Regions from separate parts of the Homo sapiens genome. Here region 2 is linked to region 1. The links come from fine-mapping of genetic effects on gene expression. Tissue or cell type: whole blood. Region 1 holds a variant in brackets; the other region holds the start of a gene. All regions are shown on one strand. Distances are from middle to middle. Region 1 overlaps FANCC (FA complementation group C). Region 2 holds the start of FANCC (FA complementation group C).

What was found.
Region 2: FANCC starts here. The variant in region 1 is fine-mapped to the expression of FANCC in whole blood (TOPMed, PIP 0.96).

Annotation. Positions count from the first base shown.
Region 1 is chr9:95,295,022-95,300,407 of GRCh38, forward strand. The region is part of intron 1 of FANCC (FA complementation group C); the gene reads right to left. Among named protein-coding and RNA genes, the nearest start is that of FANCC, 20 kb to the right of the region's middle. The variant T/G (reference allele first, on the strand shown) is at 2,553.
Region 2 is chr9:95,314,549-95,319,934 of GRCh38, forward strand. It overlaps FANCC (FA complementation group C), which reads right to left and starts at 3,161. Exons shown (of 15, transcript NM_000136.3): 1 at 2,978-3,161. RefSeq lists a silencer at 2,513-2,832.

The sequences.
Region 1 (5,386 bases):
AAGAAAAATCAACACAAAATGGGCTAAATGTAATACCTGAAATTATGAAACTACTAGAAGAAAACATAGAGAAAATGCTTCATAATACTGGTCTTCTGGGCAAAGATTTTTTGGATAAGACCACAAAAGCAATAAAAGCAAAAACAGACAAATGGAATTACATCAAACTAAAAATCCATCAAACTAAAAATGTCTTCACAGCAAAGAAAATAACAGCGTGAAGAGACAACCTACAGAATGGGAGAAAATATTTGCAAACTATGCATCTGAGAAGGTGTTAATATCCAGAATATATTATATAAGGAACTCAAACAGCTCAATACCAAAACAAAACAAAAAACAAAACAAAACAAAACAAAGCAAAACAAAACAAAGCAAAACAAAAAAACCTGATCTTTTAAATGGTCAAAGGGACCTGAACCAACTTTTCTTCAAAGAAGACAAACAAATGGCTAGCAGTTATTTGAAACAATGCTCAACATCAGTAATCATCAGGGAAATACACATCAAAACCACAATAAGAGAGGATCATCTGAGGCCAGAGTTTGAGACCAGCCTAGGCAACAGAGCAAAACCCCATCTGTACAAAATAAAAAATTAGCCAGGCAGGATGGCGCATGCCTGTAGTCCTGGCTACTTAGGAGGCTACAGCAGGAGGATCTCTTGAGCCCCGGAGGTTGAGGCTACAGTGAGCTATGATCACGCCACTCATTCCAGCCTGGGCAACACAGTGAGACCCTGTATCAATTAAAAAAAAAAAAAAAAAGAGTACAATGGCTGTTGCCAGGGGCTGGCAGGAGGGGAAATTGAGAGGTGATAGTTAAAGGTACAAAGTTTCAGTCCTAAAAGAGAAGTAAATTTTGGAGATCTACTATATTGCATAGTGCCCATGGCTAACAATATTATGCTGTATAGTAAAAATGTACTAAAAGAGTAGAGCTTATATTAAGTGTTCTTACCATACACAAAAAAATAATAACAAAACAGGCAGGGGGAACTTTGGGAGGTGATGGGTATGTTTACAGTTTTGATGGTGGTGATAACTTCATGGGTATATACTTATCCACAAACTCATTGAGTTCTATAGATTAAATATGTACAACTTTTTATATATCAATCATATCTCAATAAAGTGATTTTAAAAATCAAAACAAACCTTTTACATCTGAAAATATCAAGGATCTACTGCACAATATATTAAAACCTCTCTATCACACTCCAATTTAAAATGACTAAGGATCATGACCTAGACACACTAATTAAATGTAACAAGAGGTTTCATTGCCTGAAAAATAGAAAAGTAGTAAAGAGACAGATCCTCAAATGTCATGTCTTTGGATGACAAGGAAAACTTTGAAGAAATAGGTGGAAAAACTCAACAGATCTGAAAATAAATGTTGTCTTTAAAAATAATTATGTGGTTTTTATTTTAAAAAATTTATTGATATGTTCCCATACCAAATCCACAGAGCTTTGTTAGGCTTTTTTTTTTAATCTAAGGGTAATTAATTTGAATTTTCCAACAGGGTTTCAGTAAAGCATAAATGAGGAAATTACATATATCTAATGGATTAGAATATTTCAAGTGTATGGATTTCGATATGAAGACAGAAAGTGGAGAAAAGGCAGGTAAGGTGTATTCAGTTAGCCAAACAAACACAGTCATGTGTTGGGACAATATTGGGCTGGCTTTACACCTAGAGTATACACCAAAATAAAGAACATCAAACATGAACACTGACATTCACACTCAAGATAGTCACAACTGGATTGAAGCGGGCTAGCTCTCATCTACAGAATACCTTTGATATGTCTAAAAATTTTCAAAATTGTAATGAAGTTCAAAGGCAACTCATGGCTTTTATATATTTAGGAATGGAGAAATGTCTCAGGACTCTGGTCAATCCTCTTGAAGAAACTCTTAAAATCTCTTTCATTTCAAACAATAACATTAGTCATAGTCACTGAACTTAAAATACAAACTAAAACTGCAGAGTGAGAAGTGTTACATAGTACAGCAGACTAAGTGGAGCACTTAACCCAGATTTGGGGTGTTGAGGAAAGTTTCCAGAAAAAGAGACCTGACACTGAGAACTGAACCATATGTGGGGGCTCACCAGGGGAACAGCAGACTGAGGCAAGAGGGACTTTCAGCAAAGTGTAGACTAACAATACAAAAGGCAATTGTTTAGAATCCTGCCCAAATCAGGGATGCCTCCTTTCTCTAGGCATCTACACTGACTTATAATAATGGAGATAAACATTTTAGGGCATCTAGAGATAGAGGCCAGCCAAAGGAATACACTACTCGTGCTTTTATATTTTGATCTCACCATTTTTTATCCCTCTGCTGGTGACTGGCCCACCTACATAGCATCTTCCCTCCCTCTCTCCGTCCCTCTCTTCCTTCCTTTCCCAAGGTTTTCAGGAAACCCGCTTTCTTAGAAGGAGATACAGATGCCCACAACTTCTGTTGGCATGTCTGGGCAACTGCTTCCAAATGAATGCTGACTCTTGTTACCTCTTCTGGAGAGAAAGGAAAGGCTGTGGTG[T/G]TATCTAATTACCTCCATTACTTTATTTGTGTAAGATTCATCAGACAGGCTCTCTACTTTGTAATAAAAACATTAAAACAACACCAAGCATAACTTCTACAAAAGGATTTCTCAAAAGAACCTGACAACTATTACATGTTTTCTCTCTTTGTAGAAATATGTATAATGTATTTTTTGGAAGAGGGGCACACAGATCTGAGTGTGGTTTACTAATGGACAAAATGTCACAATAAAATTTCTCGCTTCTCACAAGAAAGGAAAGCATCATGATATGTTAAGTGTGAGGGGGACTTCTGGCTATAAAAGTACATTTTACCAAGACTGTCACCCTGCTCAAGCAAGTAGTAGATGGATTTAAAAGGACTTTACAAAACAGAGTAAGGACTCTGGACTTTATTCTAAGAGCAAAGGTAAGTCACTGGAGGATTTTTAGCATTAAAGTGATATACTCAGATTTCTGTTTCAGAAAAATCACACAAGCAATATAGAAAATGGACCACCAGGGGAGACAAGATCATACTGTAAGATGGAAGACCATCTTACAGTAACTGAGGCCTAGTCTAGTCACATGAAGGAATAGAGAAAAGCACCCAGATAAGAGATGCTTATCAGGGAGAACACATAGTATTTAGTATTTAGATCAGACATAGTAAAAAAAAGGAATAGAGAGGAGGTAAAGATGTTGCTTAGGTTTCTGATTAGAGAACTAGATGTGTTATGCCACCATACACTGAAAGGGGCAACAAAGGAGTAGGAACATACTTGGATAAAAAGATAGGCTCAGCTTAGGGCATGGTGAGTACAAGAGACCTGGGGCATCTAAATGAAGAGGTCCAATAGGCAGTGGGTATGTGAGGAAGAGGTTAGGAAACAGGCCTGAGCTGAAGACATAGATGTAGAAACATCAACAGAGAGACAGTAACTAAAGCTATGGAAATGGATGAGATAACCCAGGGAGGATGAGAAAAGGTCTGGGCCAAGGACAATAGAGATATGGGAGCAAAGGATGGCTCAGCTGGCCTGTGAACATTCAATTGAAGAAAACGTCTTGTACCCAGGGAGAAGTAGCATGAGTTCTGCTGAGATCAATTAGCAGACCTGTAGCCCACCCATTCTGTTCTTAGCTGTCACTTCCAGGTTTAGTCTGCCATCTTCACAAAGACTACAGCCATCCAAAATAAATAAAAGCAGTCAAAACCAACTGGCAAAATCATTGTTCTAGTTTTATTTAGTAGATTTGAAGCGGATACCATCTGTGCAGCCAAGTAATATACAAATACAAGAAATCAATCTTGTACCACAAACGCAATCCAAAAGCCATATCAGGACAGCACAGACATACAGTAACATCAGACAGAATTTCAAAGTGCTATAAAACACAATGATTCTACTTTTTGGTTGCAGGCTTTAAAAATACTACGGTATATATGGTTTTAAGATCCTAAATTGCAGTCATGTTCTTAAGCTAGTTTGTTTTTCTATTTAAGTGTTGACAGACAAAAAATACAGTTTTAGTCTAACACACCATTTACCTTACTTTTAACTTTATTTGAGCCTTAAGGGTACTCTTGCAAAGCAACAAAAATGTGCAGAACCGAGGTCAATTAATAACTAGTTTTGAAAATCTACTGAACTTTTAACTGCACAATATCAAAATCCCTATAATTTGTAATGAGCAATAAGAAAACTTGAAATTTTTCCAGCTTTGTCTAGGATTTCCTCAAAGATGAAGAACATATTATTTTAAGAAACTGTATGTGGTTCCTCTGTATGTCACATATATAGTTCTTTACTAACAGTGACTCTATTGCTAGATACCCACATGTAGACTACATTTTAGTAAAAAGGTTCCAAATTCAGTACTGAAACCGTTATCCACATCTAACCGCCTTCTTGGAGCAAAACCTTGTTTTCTAAGCCCCAGAATAGGTTTTATCCCTTAGTCAATACTTAACCCTCTGTCAAATAAAAGTTACTAATGGTATCACAAATATACTGTATCTCTGCGGCCCTGCAGTGGCTCACACCTGTAATTCCAGCACTTTGGGAGGCTGAGGAAGGAGGATCGCTTGAGTCCAGGAGTTCGAGACCAGCCTGGGCAATATAGTGAGACCTCAGCTCTACAAAACATCAAAAAATTAGCCAGACATGGTGGCGCATGCCTGTGGTTCCAGCTACACGGGAGGCTGAGGTGGGAGAATTGTTTAAGCCTGGGAGGTCGAGGCCATAGTGAGCCATGTCCGCATCACTGCACTCCAGGCAGGGAGACAGAGTGAGACCCTGTCTCAAATGCATGCGCACACACACACACACAAAATGGTATCTCTGTATACTCAAAACTCATCTCCTCAAAGTCTGTCCATTTCTATCCATCATTGACTGGCAATGTATGTGTCATGGATGTCACACTTTTTACTATCAGAACTCCCAGAAGTAGGGACTTTATCAGTCATTTCTTTGTAAGGGTCTACACACAAAAGCCACTTGATATTAGCGGCCAGCCAATTCTATGGTCTCCCAAATATAGGGAATAAAAAAGGAAATAAGTTCCTTAATATCTTGTTTTATATTTGAAATTCAGCAAGTATCGTATTTACCCCCACCTTCCTCACCTCAGCCTTCTATCTCCATCCACTGAAAAACTGGATCATGAAATTTAAGCAGAAGGGAAATCTGGTAATGGTAAGATTAAGAAAAGGGAAGAAGTCTGAAGAATCCAAAATATGGAGGAGAAAATAAGAAAGAATGATCCAAGTAAAAGACTAAAAGGAAAATTTAAGCCAAAAATAATAAAAAGGAATAAAATACATAATAAAATACCTGATAAGGCAATG
Region 2 (5,386 bases), 20 kb after region 1:
GGCTGAGGCAGAAGAATCGCTTGAACCCGGGAGGCGGAGATTGCAGTGAGCCGAGATCGTGCCACTGCACTCCAGTCTGGGCAAACAGAGCGAGACTCTGTCTCAAAAAAAAAACAAAAAACTTGCTTTCACTTTATCGATAAAAAAAATTTTAATGAAATTTTAAAAATAATTCAATTCACAATACCATCAAAAATAAAACTTCAAAATTAATTTACAAAAGGGCAAAATTTGTACACTGAAAATTACTAAATACTGCTAAGAGAAATTAAAGCGCTCAACAAATGGAAAGAGATTCCATGTTCATGATGAGATGGCAATTCTCCCCCAAATAGATATGCAAAATTAAATGCAATTCCTACAAAGTCTATCACAGCACGGTTTTCTGAAAAAAAATAACAAACTGATACTAAAATTTATATGGAAATGTAAGGAACCCTGAACCGCCAAAACAATTTTGAAAATGAAGAAAAACATTGGATAACTTACACTACTTAATTTCAAAACTTACTATAAAGCTGCCATAATCAAGATAATGTAATGCTGACATAAAAGGCATGCAGGTCTCTTACCCTCAGTCCCGTATTAAACTTGAGTTAGAAGATGCCAATCTCAAAATGGAGGTAAAACCATTGCCTGCTAGCCCCCAGTCCAACTCTGGTGGCCAATCTGAATTGTTACCAATTTTATTTTTCCAGACACGGTCTCAGTCTGCTGCCCAGTGTGGAGTGCAGTGGCGCAATCACAGTTCACTGTGGCCTCGACCTCCTGAACTCAGGTGATCCTCCACCTCAGCCTCCCGAGTAACTGGGACCACAGCCCCGCATCACTATGGCCGGCTAATTTCTTAACTTTTTGTAGAGACAGGGCTCTCTCTGTTGCCCACGCTGGACTCGAACTCCTGGGATCAAGTGATCCTTCCGCCTCCGCTTCCCAAAGTGCTGGGATTACAGGCATAAGCCACCATGCTCTGCCTGTTATCTGAATTGCCTTTCCTTCTCCACTTCTGCATTTTTATTAAAACATTGCAAAACTTCCAAGGTGCTTCTCCTGTATGTATTTTTTCACATTAAGTCAATCACTCAAGATCCACAAACAAGACAGAGAATGCACATATCCCAGCCTAAAATAAAACTTTTAAAAATCATTTGGTGCTCATTTCCAGCCCGATTTGAGGCCCTAACACTACCAACTTGGAACTACCACTCATGTGAGTTTCCTCTGGCTCTCTCCATGGCCCAGATAATCAATCCAACTTTCTACTGGCCAGGCTGGCCTCCCTGTAGCTGGTTCTCATAAACACGAAATTTGTATAATTGTTATTGGAACTACCTGCTGAAATATGGAACTGGTTAAAAGTACCATTTGTTTTAAAATGTACATGCACAGTTGCACATACATGCAGCAACACATCTTCCACAACCAGCCAATCAATCAAGTTAATGCTTTTTATTAGAGGACAAAACAAAAAATACCAATATAGAGCCTGCTTTTCTTTTCTGATGCCTTGGTAAACGTTTTTGGAGAAATCAAGAGAAAATATGACCGAATAAAGCAAAAATAAATTCGAATGTATAATATACAAAGTATAATTAGTCCAGTTCTCAAGAAGCAGGCTCTATTACTGGGAGTAGTGGGTTGGTGAAAAAGATCTCTGATATATCTAGGAAAACAAATTCTTTTTCGATGCAGCCTTTCTTGTATATGAATAATGTATATGAGTGCTTATTTCCAGGTGACTCTGGTACAGCACATAACATTGAAACATCAATTCAAGTTTAATGTATAAAGTCGCAATGAACATGTTTTCCATCTAAGCTTAGGTAATGAATGATCTCAACACATGGTATGAATTCTACTGTTTGTAACAACCTTTCAGGGGAGTAAGGAGAAAACGATCTGTCTGAGGGCATATCACTGACAGTGAGTGACAGCCACAAAGAGCTGAAGTTGGGTGGCCCAAAAGTGCTCTGCTCATTTGATAAATGCTAAGTCAAATCACATCACAGTTTAGATGCATTAAATGGGGCACAAGTTAGAATAAAATCAGATGCCCGGGAGTTTTCCAAGTTTCAGATTAGAACAAAAGTCCAGGCACATACAGGACTTTGCTAGAAAACTCCTTGGTCTCTTCCCTTAAGATTCTGGTACCCAATTTCCCATGTTATAAAACTCCAAGTCTTTTCCCCCATTCGGTGCGCTGGACACATAAGATCATAGAGGGTTCGTAGTTGTAAACGCACCCACCTAAAAAATTAAAAAGAGCAAACCAACAAACAGCACCTGAAAAATCTCTCACGGGCTTTGAAGATATGGCCTGGCGTCCACAAAAAGAATGGAGGGAAGACACTGGCCTCTGCGAACCCGCCTCCCTCCGGGAATAAAAGGCGGAGGGCGGGAGGGGTAACAGCCGCGCCCCGGGCTCCTCTAATTGGACCTCGCCCCTCCTGGCGCCCCGGCGAATGGGGTTTGGGGGCAGGGGTGTGAGGGACGGGGAGGACGAGGCCAGCTGTAGAGGGCGACCGGCTCAAAGGGGCGAGCTTTTCACGGCTCCCACGAGTCCGAGGCAGAGAAATTCACCTTTGCTCCTCTCCTTTGAAGAAGACATAGCTGCCTGCGCTCAATGAACAAAAAGAACCAAAACGCCAACACCCGGCTCCCGCCTCTCCGGGGGCTCCCTTCCGCGCGACCCCAGCGCCGGCTCCCGCCCCCGCTTTCCCCGCCCTGGCCCCGCCCCGCGGGCTGGCACCGCCCGCCACCTTCCGCCTCCCGCCTCCCGCCTCCCGCCTCAGCCTTAGCCACAGCCCTGCGCCGGCGGGAACCCCTCTCGCCCACCGCAAGGCGCGCCTGGCCCACCCGCTCTCGCGAGCCTTCCCTCTTGCCCCTCGCCTCCTCCTCCCGCTCTCGCCGCTGACGTGTCGGCCAGACCCCCGAGGGAAGCCTCCGCCCTCGCTGCGTTCTGCGGCCTGCCGCTTACCGGGTGGTCCTCGCGGGAGCTGCTTCAGCAGTTTGGGCAGTGGCGGAAAGGAAGCCACCGCCCGGGATCTGTGGCTTGAAAATTTGGCTTTGCCTCGTATTGGCTTTTTGAGTTTTTTTGGAATTTTCCCGCGGTCGCCCGGCAGTGGAGCCGCGCGCGCGCACACGTGTCAGCAGTGCATTCTGGGGCCTGGCTAGCGGCCCCGCGCGCTCCCGCGGCGTCGCGGGAAAATTCCGACGAATCTCGGGTCCGTGGGGCGGGGCGGGCGCGGCCAGGGCTCTGGCGGAAGTGGGCCCGGCTGGGGCGGGTTCTAGGCGAGCGGAGTCGGTACTGCTCCAGTGTTCCCGGTTTCGCGCGGAAGCCCCGGCGGGAGCAGGGTTGCAGCAGCGCCCGCGGAGAAGGGGCGCTGGCTTCTTCCATATTCTGTTCAAAATGTAGGGGAGGTAAAATGGAAATTAGTTCTTTTGAAGAAAAGTTGAGGCTTTGTCAACGGGGTAAAACCTCTAAAATAAGATTTTCTAACTGCGTTCTAAACAATAGCAACAAAAAAGGCATCTTCAGTTAATGATTTCCCCTACCGTACATTAGTTCCATACAGTGTTTGGTCGGGGTTCAAATCAGTTCAACGCTGTACATAAACCACCCAAACAAATATTAATAAAATTTTCTCCAAACTCCCATTTATGACAATGGCATTAGCTTGTCTTGGTGAATTTTTTTTTCTTCTAGGATCTGACGACTTAAGCTTTAAAATGTCTTAAATCAATGCCTCACAACCATAAATCATAATCATAAAACTACAGCTTAGGTCGGGCGCTGTGTCTCAGGCCTGTAATCCCAGCACTTTGGAAGGCCAAGGCGGGCGGATCACGAGGTCAGAAGATCGAGACCATTCTGGCCAACATGGTGAAACGCCGTCTCTACTAAAAATACAAAACGTTTAACCGGGCGCGGTGGCGGGCGCCTGTAATCTCAGCTACTCTGGAGGCTGAGGCAGAATAGCTTGAACCAGGGAGTCAGAGGTTGCAGTGAGCCGAGATCGCGCCACTGCACTCCAGCCTGGCGACAGAGGGAGACTCCGTCTCAAAAAAAAAAAAAAAAAAGCTACAACTTCACATATACGTTCAAAAACACACTACAGGCCGGGCGCGGTGGCTCACACCTCTAATCCCAGCACTTTGGGAAGCTGAGGCGGGTGGATCACCTGAGGTCAAGAGTTTGAGACCAGCCTGGCCAACATGGCAAAAACCCGTCTCTACTAAAAATACAAAAATTAGTGTGTACTCCCGGCTACTTAGGAGGCTGAGGCAGGAGAATTGCTTGAACCCAGGAGGCGAAGGTTGCAGTAAGCCAAGATCGCACTACTGCACTCCAGCCTGGGCAACAGAGCGAGACTCTGTCTCAACAAAAAACACCACAAAGCTGTGTGTGCTTGTAATAAAAATAGCTCTCAAGTATTTAAACATGTCCAACTATTCCTATGGTGAAGAAATACCCGTTTTACCAATGAATACTTTCAATTCAGAGACTAATTTGCAGAGGTTATACATTTATAAGTGATACAATAAGTATATAGCATAGCAATAGCAACAATCTGTTTAAGAATTAAAGGTAGTTAAAAAAAGGAACCGATCCAGAGGTTGAGACAAAACTGGCAGAATCTGCAACTACATTAAGGAATTCGGTGTTTACATCCATTCTCGAAACTATTCCATGCCAGTTAAGGAAGTCGGTGCTTTTTGATTGTTTTTTAATTTTAGATTCGGGGGTACATGTGCTTGCTTGTTACATAGGTATATTGTGTAATGGTGGGGATTGGGCTTCTGGTGTACCTGTCCCCCAAACATTGAACATTGTACCCAATAGCTAATTTTTCAGCCCTCACCCCCTTCCCACCCTCTCCCTTTTTGGAGTCCCCAGTGTCTTGTTATTCCCATTCTTATGTACATGTATACCTATTGTTTAGCTCCCGCTTATGAGAACATGCAATATTTGATTTTCTGTTTCTGAGTTTGTTCACTTAGGATAATGTCCTCCAGCTCCATCCATGTTGCTGCAAAGGACATGATTTCGTTCTGTTTTACAGCAGAGAGGTCGATGTGTTTTTGATGTGTGCATAGTGTGACATGGATAAATCAAAAGCAAGTCCTGGGTAGGGAAATACATGCCTGAGGGGCACTCATCGTGGCACCTTGACCATGAGAAAGTCACCTCTGTGGTAACAAATCGAGAGTGAGTTGACGTTTAAGTTCTGCATTTATCAGCAAAGAAAGCAATTAAAGTATGTATTTCTTGAGAGAAATTATCTATTTTGGTACCCACATCCTTTTACATATTCGCTGAAAAATCATTTTTAGTGTTTGTTAATGATTGATGTCTTGCCATATCCCAGTTTTCTGTCTTTTTAGT